Regions from separate parts of the Homo sapiens genome. Here region 1 is linked to region 2. The links come from fine-mapping of genetic effects on gene expression. Tissue or cell type: whole blood. Region 2 holds a variant in brackets; the other region holds the start of a gene. All regions are shown on one strand. Distances are from middle to middle.

Region 1 (8,107 bases), 61 kb before region 2:
CCTCATTGTATCCCATACTGTTACTTCCATGTATACTCCCCACACAAGAGAACTTTTTATATGCAGAAATGCTCTTATCTTAAATTCAGCAAATTATTCAAAAAGAAACAAATGGGGAATGAAGTAAATGTCCCCTCAAAAAATGTTCTGTAAAAGAAGAAAGTTTATTTCTTTTAACCTACTTAGAACAATCTTGAGAAATTTATTTTAGGGTATTCAGGGTTTCAGATATTTATAAAATAAAGACGTATAGCATTAAAAAAATTTTAGTGTTAAAAGCCAATCTATGAGTCATTTTGTAACATCAAATTTTTAAAAAATCTGTCCTTGGAAAAATTATCTGTCATATTTAATTGCACCCCCACCATAGCAACAAGGGTACTTAAAAGTTAATAAACACTACTTACAAACACATCTCATGTATACACAAAGTTTTTAAAACATCTATGTGATTGAAATAGTCTACATAGTCAAGGTATTTACACGTGAGTAAGATTCTAAAAATCAGATAAAAGGCATGTCAAATATTAGTCATTACTTTATAGATTTTCGGGGAAAAAGAATTAGACTCTATCTGTACTTGTCTCAATTCAGAGAATTACTCACACAATTTAAAATACTGACCCTACTTTCCCCTGCAATGAAATGAATTCATTAAACTCTTCTATAAAGATGATTAAGCATGAATAATCATTTATGCCTTTAATTATATAACTAGTTTTCAAAGGATTTCCCTGCCTTTATCATTTCAGCCTCAGTAATTATCAATCAAAACACTAGTTATTTTAAAAACACAAAGCTTTACCTTAAACCTATTTCATCTAAATCTTTATTAATCGTTATTTATAAATGTCATCACTGAAGTCTGCAATTTCCTAAATGACCTAACATTTGATTCTATTTCACCTTTCTGACAAACAAAAATTATACCTTTTGTAAACAATCTTCAGATCTCGCCACTCAAGGAAGCTGCACATTTTAGGTTTCCGTGCTAAAACGGTCTGAACAAGTTCTCTTGTGATCTTTTTCTTCTCTTTGTCTGATAGTGGGACATACCATTTTTGCAGTCGAAGCTTTCCCTGACGACTAAAAAGCAACATAAACTGCATCTGTTAAGATAAATAAAATCAAGATTACATGTAATACTTTGAATCAATAAAGTTAAGATTATGTGTTTCACAGAGAAGTTTTGGGGGATGGGGCATTTACATGACAAATGATTAGTAGCCATCAATATTTCTATGCCAATTAAAATAGCAAGAAATTCTTTTGGACAGATCTTCCTCTAGATGCAAACCTTCCAATCCCACCTTGTTCCACATTAAGTTTGAAGGGGAGTGTGCAGGAGAAAAAAGAAAAATGGGTAATAAGCTGAAGTGAAATTTTTGAAGAAAAATAAAGATCACTCTTTCAATTTAAGAAACTATTTTCTACCTGTGCTATACATTGCGCACTCTCTATATGCATCAAAAGAGAATGGTAGACATCATCTGGTTTGGGTACTTTTGAAAGAAACAGAAGACCTGCTATTTTTCATCCTGAGGCCGTTCTAGTTCCAGGGTGAATTACTTGCAGACAGTAGCTTATGTCTTGGAATGTTCTCCTCAGTTTATGATGGCATATTTTAAGCAAAACAGAATGATCCAAAATATTAACTGAAAAATCCCATAAATACAAATTTTCATTAATAAAAAAGTATGTTTTCATCTGACTTTTAAAGCATTCCAACTTAAATATGTACAAAATCTAGAACTGAGTTAATGTATTATGAAAAAGAAAACAAACGTTTAAAAGGCCACAATAAGATTTACACTTATTAAATAAGATTCAGCATTGAAACATTACATGAAATACTTCATTTAAAATAAAAAATAGTATCTACAGATGGAATGGATGCTGAATTCTAGTGTGTTTTATACTTAAACTAATTTGTATGTATTTATTTGTGATCTGCAAATGTGTTGATTAGTCTGCATGTTTCATTTTTAACGCCAAGCTTTTTGTAATCCAATTGGTCATCTCAACTGCAAACAGAAGTATTGTTTCTACAAAGGTAATTTAAAGGCAGAATTCACATAGGTATCCTTTTTTCTTTTAATCACTGTTAAGTTCCTTTAACAGCGTTACTGCAAATAAGATTCAAGCATGATTCTCAAGATTCACCACACCATCTTGAATTTGAACACGGGGAGGGGAAATTTACAGAACCAATGTAGAATAAAAATGGGCCCTAAATTTCGGTAAGAAATTATCGTCGCTTTTTGTAACCACCCAAAAAGGTATCAACAAGATATCTAGAAATGTATGACGTGGCAATTCAACTTTAGTAAAGTTAAAATGGTCTTATTACCTCACTTAAAATGCGTCAGGGGAACAAAATATAAGGACATTATTAGGTGATACCAAAGTGCCTCCCGTGCAAGTCCTGAAGATAGCGGCATTCGAAGGGGGCAGGAAGTGAAGCATCAACTGGGCATTTACTGCAAACCCGTTACCAGAACTTGGAAAAGAATGGACCTCGTATTCCTAGATCTTGGTGACCAGAAAGGGTGAGGGTTTGCCTGCGAAGAGTATGGGCTCAAGGCTGTCTGGAGCAGGGTCCTGTATCCGCCCTACCACTTTGCAGGACGAAAAAACAATGTATTCTCCTTAAAATAAATTATGTCCTAACATGGGACGAAACCCGGTTGCAAAGCACGAGTATTCCTTCCCTCGTGTTAAAAACCAACGCTTTGATTTTGCCGCAAATCACAGGGCACCACAATTCCTCGAGACTGGCATTAAAAACAATGGGCTCAGCCGCGGCGCGGGCTCGGGGCCAGCGTTCCTCGGGTCCGGCCGTCGCCGGTGCCTCCCCCCCACTCCCGTGGCCACACTCCATCACTGACCAAGCCCGGGAGAGGTGACAGGCAAGGAGCGGAGCAGACAATGGCATCCGCCGCCGCGCAGGGGGCGCCAAGAGTCCTCGGCCGCCACCGCCCCCGGCCCCTCCCGAAAGCGCCCCGCAAAACTTGAGGCGATTCCCGAACCACAGGTGCCGCGAGGCTGTCGCGGAGCCCGGGACTGGCCCCCACATCCCCGGGCGCGGCGCGGAGTGGTGCGGAGGGCGCGGACACGGAGAGAAGTGAGTTGCGGGCGCGGCGACCCAGTGGCGGGCCGGGCAGGCTCGGGGTGGGGTCGTCGGGGCGCGCGCGGGGTGGCGGGGGGCGCGCCCAGTCCTCCCTCCCCCTCTCCCCCATCCCCGGCGCCCCCTTTCGCCCCCAGGGACTTACGGCGGCCGCGGGCCGCGGGCGCGGCGGAGCTTGGCCGGCGGCGGCGGCGGCGGCGAAGGGGAAGCCCCTGTCGCCGTGCTGAGGAAGAGAAGCCGTGGTGCTGTGGGGAGGACACCCGGCTGGCATAGGGCAGGCTTAGGCGGAGAGGGGAGGGCAAGCTGACAGACCCCGCCCCGGGGGCCGGACGAGGGAGGAGCCGGGGCTGCGGCGAGCTGAGGGGCGGGCTAGGCGACGCGCGGGAAGCGGCTCAGCGGTCGCCAGCGGCACCGGAGGCAGCGCGGGTAACCGCTGAGTCCAAGGCAGCCGATTGGAGGTTTCTTCGCTGAGGGGAGGTGCGAACCGGAAGCCGGGCCACGTGACCCGGAAGCGGCGTTTGCCGGGCCCGAGCGCCCGCGCGCCCGCGCGCTCTTGCAGGTGCCTCCGGGACGCGCGCGGGCGGCTGTCCTGCTTGTTTAATGATAGGAGGACGGGATTCTGCAGCGTCCTTAGCCTAGCGGGTGGTGCGGGGCAGGGAAGTTCCGGACAGCGAAGAGCCACGTTCGAGCTCTAATGATTCTCTGTGTCCCCAGAGAGGAAGTGTGAAGTGTGACGGCTGACGAGGAGGGTGGGAGGAGACGAGGGAGTGCTGCAACTCTGGAAAAACAAGTCAGCTCTTCTGTGGAGCTCGTCACGCATTCACGGGCCTTTTGCTATCATTCTGCCTCAAAATTGTCCGGAATCCGCCCTCTCCTTCCCATTGCACTGCTCCAGCCCTAGCCCAGACACCTTCCGCCCCGAGCTTCGCGGGAGTCTGTTCCCTGGGCTCGCCTCGCCCATCCTCGGTGCTGCGGACTGGATGAGTTACCGTCCGTTCGGCTGAAAAGCCCGGACAGCACCTCACCTTCGAGATCCCGCTTCCTTCACACTGGGTCGCCCCACCAGCCGCCTGGGTTCCAGTTTAGCACTGCCGACGACTTGCTGTGCCTGGCATGTCCTTGCTCCCAAATGTCACATCTATGAAGCCTCACCCTAAAACCCTGTAAGAGCGATTCCCTCTTTCACCCACATGCCCGTTAGCCTTTATTTAGCACACCTTAAATTGTATTCATTTTGCATCTCAATCTAGTTCACAGCCTGGTATATAACAACTAATAAATGTGAGTTGACTGATAAAGACTATAAAATGATAAATTTGTTAAGAGCTGTAATGCTGAGCGTAATGCCTGGGCATAATGGATGTTCATAATTTTCTGAATGATAGAATGGATGAATCATCTAGTCATTTACAGATAAGGAAAGGGGAGTCCCACGGGATTAGGTGACCTTCCTTGAAGAGCCACGGGTTTCCCATATCGAAATGCTATTCATTACCCGAGTCACCTAGGTTCTTACAAAGGAAGCGAGAAAATTGCTTTTGTTGGGCCATGCCCCTTTTGCAGAGGTTCCTAAGTATAGTCGCCAGAATTTTTTTAATGGCCTAAAGTAAAAAAAGAAATGCTAAAATTTTCACGAAGCTAAATGTAATCAATGTAAAGGAATCCTTTATTAGGGATTATATTCTTTTTGTGTACATTATAGTATCTATGAAACTAAGACAGTAGTTTTGGGGGCTTTTAAAAAATGCTTTTGTATGACAAAACAAAAAGAAATGTGTAATACTTCCCCTTTTCAAGCACTACTGTGCTGCTTGGAAAGTTTCCTACTAACATGTATGATTAATGTATACTGGAATATTAAAGAAAGGGGACGACACACGGCACAGAGCTGGCTTTCTGTAGTTCTTTAGGTCCCCCTCGCCCCCACCAGATTTCTCCCTACCTAGTCATGCCCCAAAGGTGCTTTCGAATGTCCCATTTCTCTCTTACTACAAGAAACAGATGCCATTAACCAGTTAAAAGATAGCTCTAATGCTACACAATGAAAACTCGCCCTCTGAATCCAAATGCTGCTTTTCTCTTTTTCTGTACAAAACACTTATATCCTGAAGGTTCCTGAGATAGCCACTTCCAAGTTTAAACTCTGATTATGCTCCTAATGTTGCTCTGAAAATGAGGACGGGAGACTTGCTGATGACATACTGGCAGTCTCCTTTCCTGCTCCTAGCCAAAAAAAGGTGGGGGTAGGGGTAGGGAGGGGAAGGAATTGTGGGAAAAATAATTAGCAGCTGAAAGCAGCTATTACATAATCTTGGCTGCTTATTAATTTAGCAGAAGGAATGGCTTATTAAATTCTAATAGCAACAGCACAACTGCAAACAACCTAGCAATTAACAGTGCAGGGCCCATTATTTTGTTAATATGTTCTCTTCTTTTGGCAAGTGTATGAGAACAAAATTTATAGAAGCAGATGGTCTTTTTCAATAGATTATAGATGGTTTATTCCCTAGTCTTAGTATTAAGTGCTAATTATGCATTCACTGTGAAAGACAAAAGAAACATGGTTGCCATCTTTGTTAGTAATTAACTGCTTGACTTTGATTCCCACAATTTCCCAATTGTAGGCTTTGTTATATACATGTTTCTTCTCACCTAGTGTCTTCTTCATCCGTCATGTCAATTGGTTATCTTTTTTAATCCTGTTTTTGTTTTCTAGATGGTCCTGATTTATTGGTGTTAATATTGATACAAGAATTATATACAAAATTCGTTTCATGAAAAACTAAAAATCAGATTTTATACTTGTTTCTTAAATTTGAAAAAAATGCTTCACTGTCATTTATGCTAAATGTAAGAGGTGAGGGGAAAATAGAAATCTTTACCTTCTAACGATAAAATTTTGAGACTTTTTATGTAATCTTTCCAAAGTTTTCAAAAATAATTTTAGTTTCCTATTAAATGTGTGATGGCCATATACTTTTATCCTCTCACTGTCTCAAAATACCATTAATTTTTTTTAAAGGGACTATTTAAAACACATACCCACGTGGAAAATAAGAGAGGGAACATTTACATGAGGATGTCGATAAGGATGTCAGGATACACTGTCAGCTCATCATTTAAACACTGATGATTTAAAGAAAAATTGTCATATATTGATATTATGGAGGAGCAGAAGTGAGGGAAGGTTGAAATAATGCTAAATCCTCATGTGCTAAAGGGAAGAAAATAGATAACATCTAAAATAAATCACGAACTAGAATTATTAGCATATTCTTTCGATACCAGGAAGTAAATCCCAGAAGCAATGGTGAATTTCTTTCCATGGACAGAATCTTGCAGTAGGATGTAATAAAGGGTATTATTACATTTTACTTAGGTTTTTTCTTAAATAATTTTTTAAAATATTGTAAGGAGGTAGATAAAAACCATTCCATTAGTTGCTAGCTCTGTATTATGGACTTATACAGAGTTCCTTTAGCCAGTCTATAGATTATTTAGAAATTATTAAATAAAAATGCCCAATAATGGAATTCAGTGCTGAAGCCTTGTAGATCACAGAAAGTGTAAAAAAGATGTTTAGAGTTTGTGAATTTGCATCTCCAAAGATAAAGTTGTTCCAGGGAGAAAAATGGCCTAAAATAATGAGGATTTGTGAACCAAATCATTTCAAAATAGATAGAGCTGTCACTGCCAAAGTCCTCAACAATGAGCTAAAGAGAAATGTGGAACATATGCTCTTTCTCGAAGCCTGTTTCCATAGCTTTGAATAAAATGCAGGAAAATTACTACTGCCCTATGAACATTAGGATAGAGCAGTGATTCTCAGCCTGGGCACTTTTGCCTCCCAGGGGACACTTGTCAGTGTCTGGAGACATTTTGGTTGTCACAACTAGGAGTAGTAGGTGATGCTGCCAGCATCTAGTGGGCAGAGACCAGGGATGCTGCCCAGCATCCTGCAACATACAAGAGAGATCCCATAGCAAAGAATGATCCAGCCCCAAATGTCACTAGTGCCAAGGTTCAGGAAGAAATCCTGGGTTAGTCACTGAAAATATTAACATGCAGTAGCATATTTTTATAGACATTTCAAGAAATGGAACAAACATTATCTTCATATAAGTTTCTCTCTCTCTCTCCCTCTCTTTCTCTCTCTCTCCTCCCTCTCCCTCTCTCTCCCTCTCTTTCTTTCTCAGAGTTGGAGCCATTATTCTTAATATCTGCTAGATAAAATCCTTAACTGCTTAAAAGACTGGAGGCATACATAAAGCAGTCAGTATTCTTTAATAGCAACTAGAATAAACTATCCAAACTGATTTTCAAAAAATGACCCCAGAATATTAGTAAAAGTTACTTAAGCACTTGAATCCATGAGATGCCTATTCCATCCATACATACATTGTAAATGTTTGTTAGGTATCTACTTTATGCTGGGGCACTCTGGAAGGTAATGAAGATATAAAGACAAATAAGATATTGACTTGGTCCTAAAGCTCCATTTCTTCTGACACAGAATTTCTAGTCTTTTAGAGACAAACCCTGGATGGTCAAAGGATAGTCATCAACCAAACGTATGAACATTTTCTTTTAGGAGACCCCTAGAGATGCTTCATAGAACCTTAGATTTCTGTAACCAACACGTTTGAAAACTATGTGCTCTCATGACCTCCCAGGGCTCTTCGCAATATTTTCGTTCGATGAATTTCTATGTCACTCTTAATTCACAGCAATATAAGAGAGAGATTCTGTATGTTTTAAACAAACGATTTCAAATAATGTCTTGATTTGATCCTTGAAGTGAAATGCTTCAACAATGATCTAACTCAACTCCAAATCGCTAAACCAGTGGTTCTAGAATATTCTTTTAGAGGACTTGTGAAAATACAGGTTGCTGGGCCTCATTCCCATAGTTTCTGATTCAGGGGGTCTGAGATGAGGCCTGAGAATTGCATTACTAACAAGTTTCCAGGTGATGCTGAT
Region 2 (8,107 bases):
TGGACTATAGTGGTAGAACATGTATATAATTTGTAAATAAATACAGATAAACATGGGGGGATACATGATTCAAAAGTTTTCTCCCTTTGAAATGTTGGCTCAAAGTTTACAAACTTTTCATCCAATATATTACCTCTTCCTAGCAGCATCATGTTATCTTCTCATTTAATAAGAGAGCCTTCATCTTTGTCAATTCATGTTTACTGAACTATGTAGGATTATGTGAATGTTCCAGCATATATAAGAGGATAAGACATTTGCTGTTCTTAGGACGTTTAACTATCTGGATGGAGATGATGATGATAATAGTGGTAATTTTGGAGGAGGTGACAATGTTAATGGTGGTGATGATGCTGATGTTGCTGGTGATGATGATGGCCAAGAAAGAGATAAAGAAGAAAGTCTTATTTATGGTTGAGATTAAAGCAAAATGGGAATTGAAGGCTTCTCCTCCCTGCGATCTGGTAATGCAACATCTTTACCTAGCAGTGATGCTCTTCCCTGCTTGTTCATCTTCCTTCCAATATAGCTTAAAAATACTTTTTAGTCATCCTCAGCATGTACTATAAATCTCAGCTTCCTAGGATTTGAGCCTTGTGCAGGAGGTTTTTTCTAAGCCCCTTCCACTCTTCTGTATGTATTTTGGTCCTCAGTGCTCCACAAGCTGTGAAAGCTGTGAGTCATGATTCCCATATGGTGGGATTCCCTCCCCTCCCCTCCATCCACATGCTTGCCCTGCCATCTGCTGCCACTCTCAAGGTTATAGAGCAAGAGATAATGCAGGGAAGGGAAAGGAAAACACCAGGAAAACCAACACTGTTTTATAAGTAAAATAGAAAAAAAAAGATGTATTTTTCTTACTACGAAAACAACTGTATTCACTACAGAGAAATAAAAAACGGAAGCACAAAACCAAACCAAACCAAACCAAACCAAACCTAACCAAACCCAACCCAACCAACCCAACCCAATCCAAACAAAACAGTCTCCCTCTGAGCATCATTCATCACTTTAACCATCTCCATGTATGTTTTTCCAAATCTGTATTCTGTATCTATCTATGAAGCCAGCTATCAAATAAAATAAGATCATTACCACATATTTTTGTGACCTGTTTCTTGTTTAACTGAATCATGAACATCTTTTCATGTCAGTAAATGTACCCCTAAACTACCTTTTTTTTTTTTTTTAAGACAGAGTCTCACTCTGTCGTCCAGGCTGGAGTACAGTGGTGCAATCACAGCTCACTTCAGCTTTGACCCCCCGGGCTTAAGCAATCCTCCCACCTCAGCCTCCTGGATAGCTGAGTAGCTGGGACTACAGGCATGTGCCTCCATGCCTGGGCTCAAGCGATCCACCCACCTCAGCCTCTCAAATTTCTGGGATTACAGGTGTGAGCCACCATGCTCGGCCCACACTAGCATTTTAATATTTAATGAATATTTTCTATGCAAAGCATTATTCCAATTGCTGCAGTTTATACAGAAAAATAGGTAAGATAGTCTCTGCCCTCATGTGGGTATGGCATCATTTTTTTCTCCCTATCTAACATTTAGGTTATTTCCATATATTTGCTTTTACAAATAATGCTGTGATGAATATCCTTGTAGCTAAGTCCATGCATATGCTCATAATTTTAGAATGATTGTGCTGGCTACTCTCTGTTTGCCCCTCTGGTCTACTCTTCATTCTTGTCTGCCTTGGTCCATGGACCACATCAGGGCTCATTTGCCCTCTGGCAATGTGCAGCTCATGCAGGGCTTTGGGGAGGGCGGTAGAGAAGGGTGGGTGATATATTGTGACTCCTATCCTGCCTCCCTGTAGGCTGTCATTAGCTGCATTCTTGTATTGATGGTTGTGGTGCCTGGGTAGCCCTCTCCCAGAGCTTAGTTCTCAGGATGTTGCAAACCCCAAGGTAATGCACCATTCCTTGTTAGTTTCCTTTAACCTTGCCCTTGCCTTTATAGAGAGTTCTTTATTAAACCTTTCTCACTTACCCCATGTGAGTTTGCCATCTGTTTCCTGGCAGGACCCTGGATGATAAATGCATGCTCCTATTCCTAGCATATTCTGCATCCCTAATTGCTCACCTGCATTGGGAACTTGGGATGGATTGTGTAGGAAGGTCAAGAGCTCCCTTTTTGTTGACTGAAGGACTGGATACCCGTGATCATTGAGCAGCCATCTTCCATTTCTTTCTCCTGGACCCCTCCAGGCTCTGATGGGGATTTCTCAACCTATGCCTGTGGCACTCTGCTGGGGCCCAGAGGAAAGAATCAAGAGAGCCCTTAGTCCTCCTGCTCAGAGCTTTGACCTCAAGTATGTGAGAATTTCACCTTGTTCAGGATGCTCGAAACCTTCCCTAGAGTCCAAGTGAGGTGGGAAAGGTTGTTGTGGTCATTTCTTATCCTTTTAAACACCTGAGCTCACAGCAAAATTTGTTTATTAAATTATTTCTCTAGTTTTAAACAGTATTACAATTTTTTTTTTTTTTTGAGACAGGGTCTCGCTCTGTGGCCCAGGCTGGAGTGCAGTGGCATGATCACGGCTCAATGCAGCCTCAACCTCCTGGGCTCAAGCGATCCTTCCACCTCAGCCTCCCAAGTGGCTGGGACCACAGGTATGCACCACCGTGCCCAGCTAACTTTTGTATTTTTCGTGGAAGTAGGGTCTCCCTGTGTTGCCCAGGCTGGTCTTGAACACCTGGGCTCAAGCCATCTGCCCACCTCAGCCTCTCAAAGTGCTGGAATTACAGGCGTGAGCCACCATGCCTGGCCTATGGTATTCTTATTAAATAGCCAGAAGTATATTTTCAGAGCTTCTAGCTTGGATTAGAGTCCCCTGATACTATTTCTTCTGTGATTCTATCTTTTCTGTGCATCAGTAGAAATGTGTTTTCCTAAAGTCTACAACCAGTTTTACCTTCCTTGCCTTTGGATTTTCAGATAACACAATCAATCCCTTTATTCAAAGGTTCTTCACACTTCTGTTTAATCAATTGTTCTTGACTGTTCAGAATGAAGTGTCTGTCGCATTTCTTTTGTTACCTTCTGTTCAATGAAATTGTTAGCAAGCCTAGTCAAAAATGATCAAATACTCTTCTTTTTGGTGGCAAATGAGAGTTTTCCATGGAGGAGCTTTGGAGGAGGGTTGTAGACAAGGGTGGGTGATATATTGTGACCCCTACCCTGCCTCCCTGTAGGCTGTCATTAGTGCATTCTTGTATTGACGGTTGTGGTGCCTGGGTAGCCCTCTCCCAGAGCTTAGTTCTCAGGAAGTTGCTAACGCCAAGGTAATGCACCATTCCTTGTTAGTTTCCTTTAATCTTGCCCTTGCATACCCTGCATATTTGGGGTCCCCATCGTATTGCCCCGGACCCCGCTCCTTAATAAATTACTGCCTTTGGGAATTCCAGTTCCCAGAGGTGGGCACTAGGAGAAAGTTGGTTTCAGAGTCAGAAAGATCTGGAGTTTAATCTAATCATTATTTATTTATTTATTTATTTATTTATTTATTTATTATTATTTACTTGGCCCTGCCTAAGCAGGACCTCAAAAATTTGGTTATTAATTAATAATTGTTCCTCTCCATGGAAATCTTTAGTAAAAGGCCAAATATTTATTTGTTCTGAAGAGAAACCAGAGCATCCAATATTATTGGCTGTGTGAATCTAAGGCTTCTGCCTTACTGAGTTGCAAGCTTCCTGACTCAGCTCACAGATTATAAGAAGTAAATGGATTGACCTCTAC[G/A]GAAATAATCAAGCACAGTGTGAGGAACTGTGGTTGCTCAGTCTGTGACTTATCCTCCCCAACTCCCTTTCCCACTTCCTCTTGCCATGCCTCTTCCCTCCTCCCTCTCCCCATCTCCCTCCCCCTTCCCTCTCTTCTACATTTCCCCTTTTCTTGCTACTTTCCATTTCCTGTCCCCACCTCTTCTCCTCCCTACTCCTCATCTCTCCTCTACACTTTCTATATGAGACTAACACGAGGACAAGAGGAATTAAAAACCAAGTCAGAAATATGTCAGATAGTTCCATTTCTCTTTGAAAACAAATCTTAGATGTGCAGGGCATTGTACTCAGAAGGAAAACTCCCAATCATAAATCCAGGCTCCAAAAGGCTTTTCCAATACGCCCCATTTAGTTCATGAACTCTCACCGTGGAGCATCAAGGACACAAAGAATGGCAGGAAACTGCTGATAATGTTCATTATTTTCCCAGTCTTTGAAAAATGCCCGTTTAATGTTTTGGACTGAAGATTTTTCCTGGTGAATCAAAAGATAAACTCTTAAAGTGGTTACATGATATATCAAATGGTCTTATCTGGTGGAAGCCAGCCGGCTAGCTAACATGAGCCAGTTCAGTAATTCTGAGGTGTTTGGAGTCAAGCTGGGAAAGGGATCCTGGGTTTCAGGAAACTGCTGTATCAGCTGATGGGGGCTGCTCTAAATGTTGGCTGGAGAAATGCACTTTGGGCCCTTTGCACCAAAATTTAGATTTACCTGGTTTCTCTTCTCAATTCTTACAAATCCTTAGCTTATCAAGGAAAATCAATGATCTTAAGATCTTTTAAGACTTTGCCCCACAATATGATGACAGAAAATATATTTTATCTTAAAATTTTATTACACTATATTATATATATAAAATAAATAATAAATATAATGTATAATATATATGTAAGTTGTGAAGACTATTGACATATAAACACACAGAGGCTGGAACATTAATATCTGGGTTGTTCTCCATGATGTCTGCCTCTCCCACCAAAATACCTGCTCTCCTGAATTTTGCATTCCCCTTCTTTAAAAACAAACTACTGAGTTTTCTGAGCTTCTTCCTAAGGAGTCAGGAGACTCGTGGTCTGGTTCCTGGATTTTCCTCACAACACAGCTCCCATATGCCTTTCTCCACTCATGCCTCAAAAGGAGAAACCAAGACCACTTTCTCCTCTGAGACAGGCAGAGACATCAGCCTTTCTGGGCTTGCTGAAGAAGGGAGAAAAAAAACTACAAGAAGCTATTGAACATATTGATGAAGTAAAAAATGAAATAGATTTAATGAACTAGCCAGTGAGAAGATTTTGACAGTAGAACAGAAATATAACAAACTCTGCCAACCATTTTTTCAGAAGAGGTCAGAATTGATCCCCCAAATCCCAAATTTTGGGGTAACAGCATTTGTCAGTCATCTGTAATCACCCAACGGATTCTTCCTGCCTGCTGCACAGATAAAATCAATTCACTGAGACCATGGTATTGTAGTAGAGGAAGAGTTTAATTGACACGAGTCCGGCCACGCAGGAGATGGAGTTATTACTCAAATCAGTCTCCCTAAAGGCTTGGAGGTTAGGGGTTTTCAAGGATAGTTTGGTGGGCAGGGGACTAGGGAATGGGAAATGTTGATTGGTTGGGGATGAAATCATAGAGGTGTGGAAAATGGTCTTTGTGCACTGAGTCAGCCTCTAAGTGGGGGCTGTAGGACCAGTTGGGTCATGAGCTGCAGTCACAGTCCAGGTAGAGTCATCTGAGTAGAGTCATCCCATCATCAGAAATGCAGAAGTCTGAAAAAATATCTCGAAAGGCCAACCTTAGGTTCTACAGTAAGGATGTTACCTACAGAAGTAATTAGGGAAGTTACAAATCTTGTGAACCCTGGAACAGTTGTTTATGCTTACAATTTAACAGAATTTTGGCCCCTCTCATAATCCTAAACTTGTGGGCTTTGATTCATTTTACAAAGGTGGTGGTGGTTTAGTTTTGGGAAGGGCTATTATCATCCTTGCTTTGGTTAAACTCTAAACTAAATTATTCCTCAAATTAGCTTAGCCTATACCCAGGAATGACAAAGGACAGCTTGGAGGTTAGAAGCAAGATGGAGTCAACTATGTCAGATTTATCTTACTCTCATAATTTTGCAAAAGTAATTTCACATCTGTAAGTGTCTGCACTGCTTGGGGAAGAGGAAGAAGAGGCACCTTGAGCAATATACAATGGGAAAAGAGTCTCTACCCCTTTCTGTTTCAATTCATTTTTATCCCTTTCTGTCTCAACGAAAACTGTATGGAATCAACACCACTGAGCTCTGCGGGAAAAAAGAAAAATCTGCTTCCTTTGCTCTGCTGGAAGCAGAAGGGTGTTAGGCCCCTGTGTGGTAGAGCATAGAATTCTAGCTTTTTTCCTTCTCAGAAAGAACACTGTGTCTCTTTGTGAATAAGGACAATTAGCATTTACCAACATGCATCCGTCTACTTTCTCTTGTTTAAAAACATAAAAAAGAATTTTTTAAAATGGGGTTCTAGGAAGTCAGTAAAGGTTAGGTTTGAGATGTTTGGATGGGTGAAGTGGGCATTTTGACAACATGGTTTCTCCTTTGGTATGTTTAATTGTGGTTTTTTTTTTTAAGCATCAGTTTGGTGAAAAATAATTTTGATGTTTACCAGGCATCCTTGCAGTTTAAGATGACACTAAAAATGAATTCTCTCCTACTGATGACTTGAGCCCTGCCACTTGCTAGAAGAATCAGCAGAACCTGTAGGATCTCATTTGGAATTGGCATGCTCTATTGTAATTTTGTCCGTGTTTATTTTTAAATTTTGATTTACTGGAAAGGAAAGATGATGCTCAGTTTTAAATGTTAAACGTGTACAAGTTGCTTTTGTTACAAAAGACTAAATGTGTACACAAAAACAAAAAAAAATTACTCTTACCAGATGCATTTCTGAACAATTTGTTTAGTTTTGCTTGTTTTTGAGCTTTATGCAAATGTCATAATAATGTATGTAGTGTTTTTTTCCTTCAAGTTTCTAACATTTATCAGTTCATCCGTATCATCGTTTGTAGTTGGTATTCATTTCTTTTTACTAGTGCCTTTGGCCAGGCACGGTGGCTCACGCCTGTAATCCCAGCAATTTGGGAGGCCAAGGTGGGTGAGGTCAGGAGTTTGAGACCAGCCTGGCCAACATGGTGAAACCCCGTCTCTACTAAAAATACAAAAAATTAGCTGGGCTTGGTGGCAGACGCCTGTAATCCCAGCTACTTGGGAGGCTGAGGCAGGAGAATCGCTTGAACCCGGGGGGTGGAGGTTGCAGTGAGCCCATATCACGCCACTGCACTCCATCCTGGGCAACAAGAGTGAAACTCTGTCTCAAAAAACAAACAAACAAACAAACAAAACACCACAACTAGTGCCCTTACATTTCATTTGGTGAATGTACACAATTCATTTATCCATACCACTGTCTATAAATATTTTGGTTGTTTATTGTTTCTGGGTGTTTGCATAATAGTCTTGCTAATGTAGATGAGACATATATTAATAAGAGAGCTGGTCACGGTGGCACATGCCTGCAGTCTCAGCTACTCAGGAAGCTGAGGCAGGAGGACCATTTGAGACCAGGAGTTCAAGGATGTAGTGCACTATGATTGTTCCTGTGAATAGCCATTGCACTCCAGCCTGCGCAATATGGCAAGACCCCATCTCTAAAAACAAAAAAGAATTATAAGAATTTTTATTATTCCTTTGTCGAATTGTCATAAACACTAGGTTAATTTTTCTAGTGTCCCTTTGCTCTTTTTCTCATTTCATCATTGCGATTCATCACCTAAAGAAACTTAGATGCAGGAAAAAAATAAATGATTTGCCCATGCTCTGTTATCACTGCTGTTATTTTCACTGCTGTCAACTCCAAGAATGAGTTAAGTCCTCTCTTGATTCTTCTTGTCCAAACAAAGAAGAGTGCCTTCCATTCTGATACCAGAATTTGAAAGATATTTATTATGATCTCATAAATTTATGACCCAAGAGGCAGTGTGTTATAGAGAAAATAATGTAAGCTCCGGAAGCAGGAAGATTTGGGTTTTAAAATGCTGGCATCAGCACTGGTGCTAGGGGAAGTGTTGTGCAAATTACTTTATTCTAAACCTCATTTTCTCATCTGCAAAATGGAGATAGCAATGTCTTCCTCTAAGGATGGCACACTAATTATATCAGGGAAGATGTGTGAAAGGTCCAGTCATCACATTATAAAATAAGGAACAGAGGGGGCTCACAGCCTGACCAGTGGAACTCATGATCCTACCCTAAAACCGACTCAGGTGGAATAAAAA

Evidence for each region. PIP is the estimated chance that this variant, and not a neighbour inherited with it, causes the effect.
Region 1: AP1S2 starts here. The variant in region 2 is fine-mapped to the expression of AP1S2 in whole blood (TOPMed, PIP above 0.99). The same link has a PIP of 0.9 or more in blood mononuclear cells.

The regions. Positions count from the first base shown.
Region 1 is chrX:15,851,416-15,859,522 of GRCh38, forward strand. It overlaps AP1S2 (adaptor related protein complex 1 subunit sigma 2), which reads right to left and starts at 3,398. Exons shown (of 6, transcript NM_001272071.2): 1 at 3,273-3,398; 2 at 931-1,109. The coding sequence starts at 1,109. RefSeq lists silencers at 2,825-3,114, 3,335-3,614, 3,705-3,814 and an enhancer at 3,432-4,036.
Region 2 is chrX:15,912,657-15,920,763 of GRCh38, forward strand. It overlaps the pseudogene RNU5F-7P and the pseudogene SETP15. Among named protein-coding and RNA genes, the nearest start is that of AP1S2, 62 kb to the left of the region's middle. The variant G/A (reference allele first, on the strand shown) is at 3,750.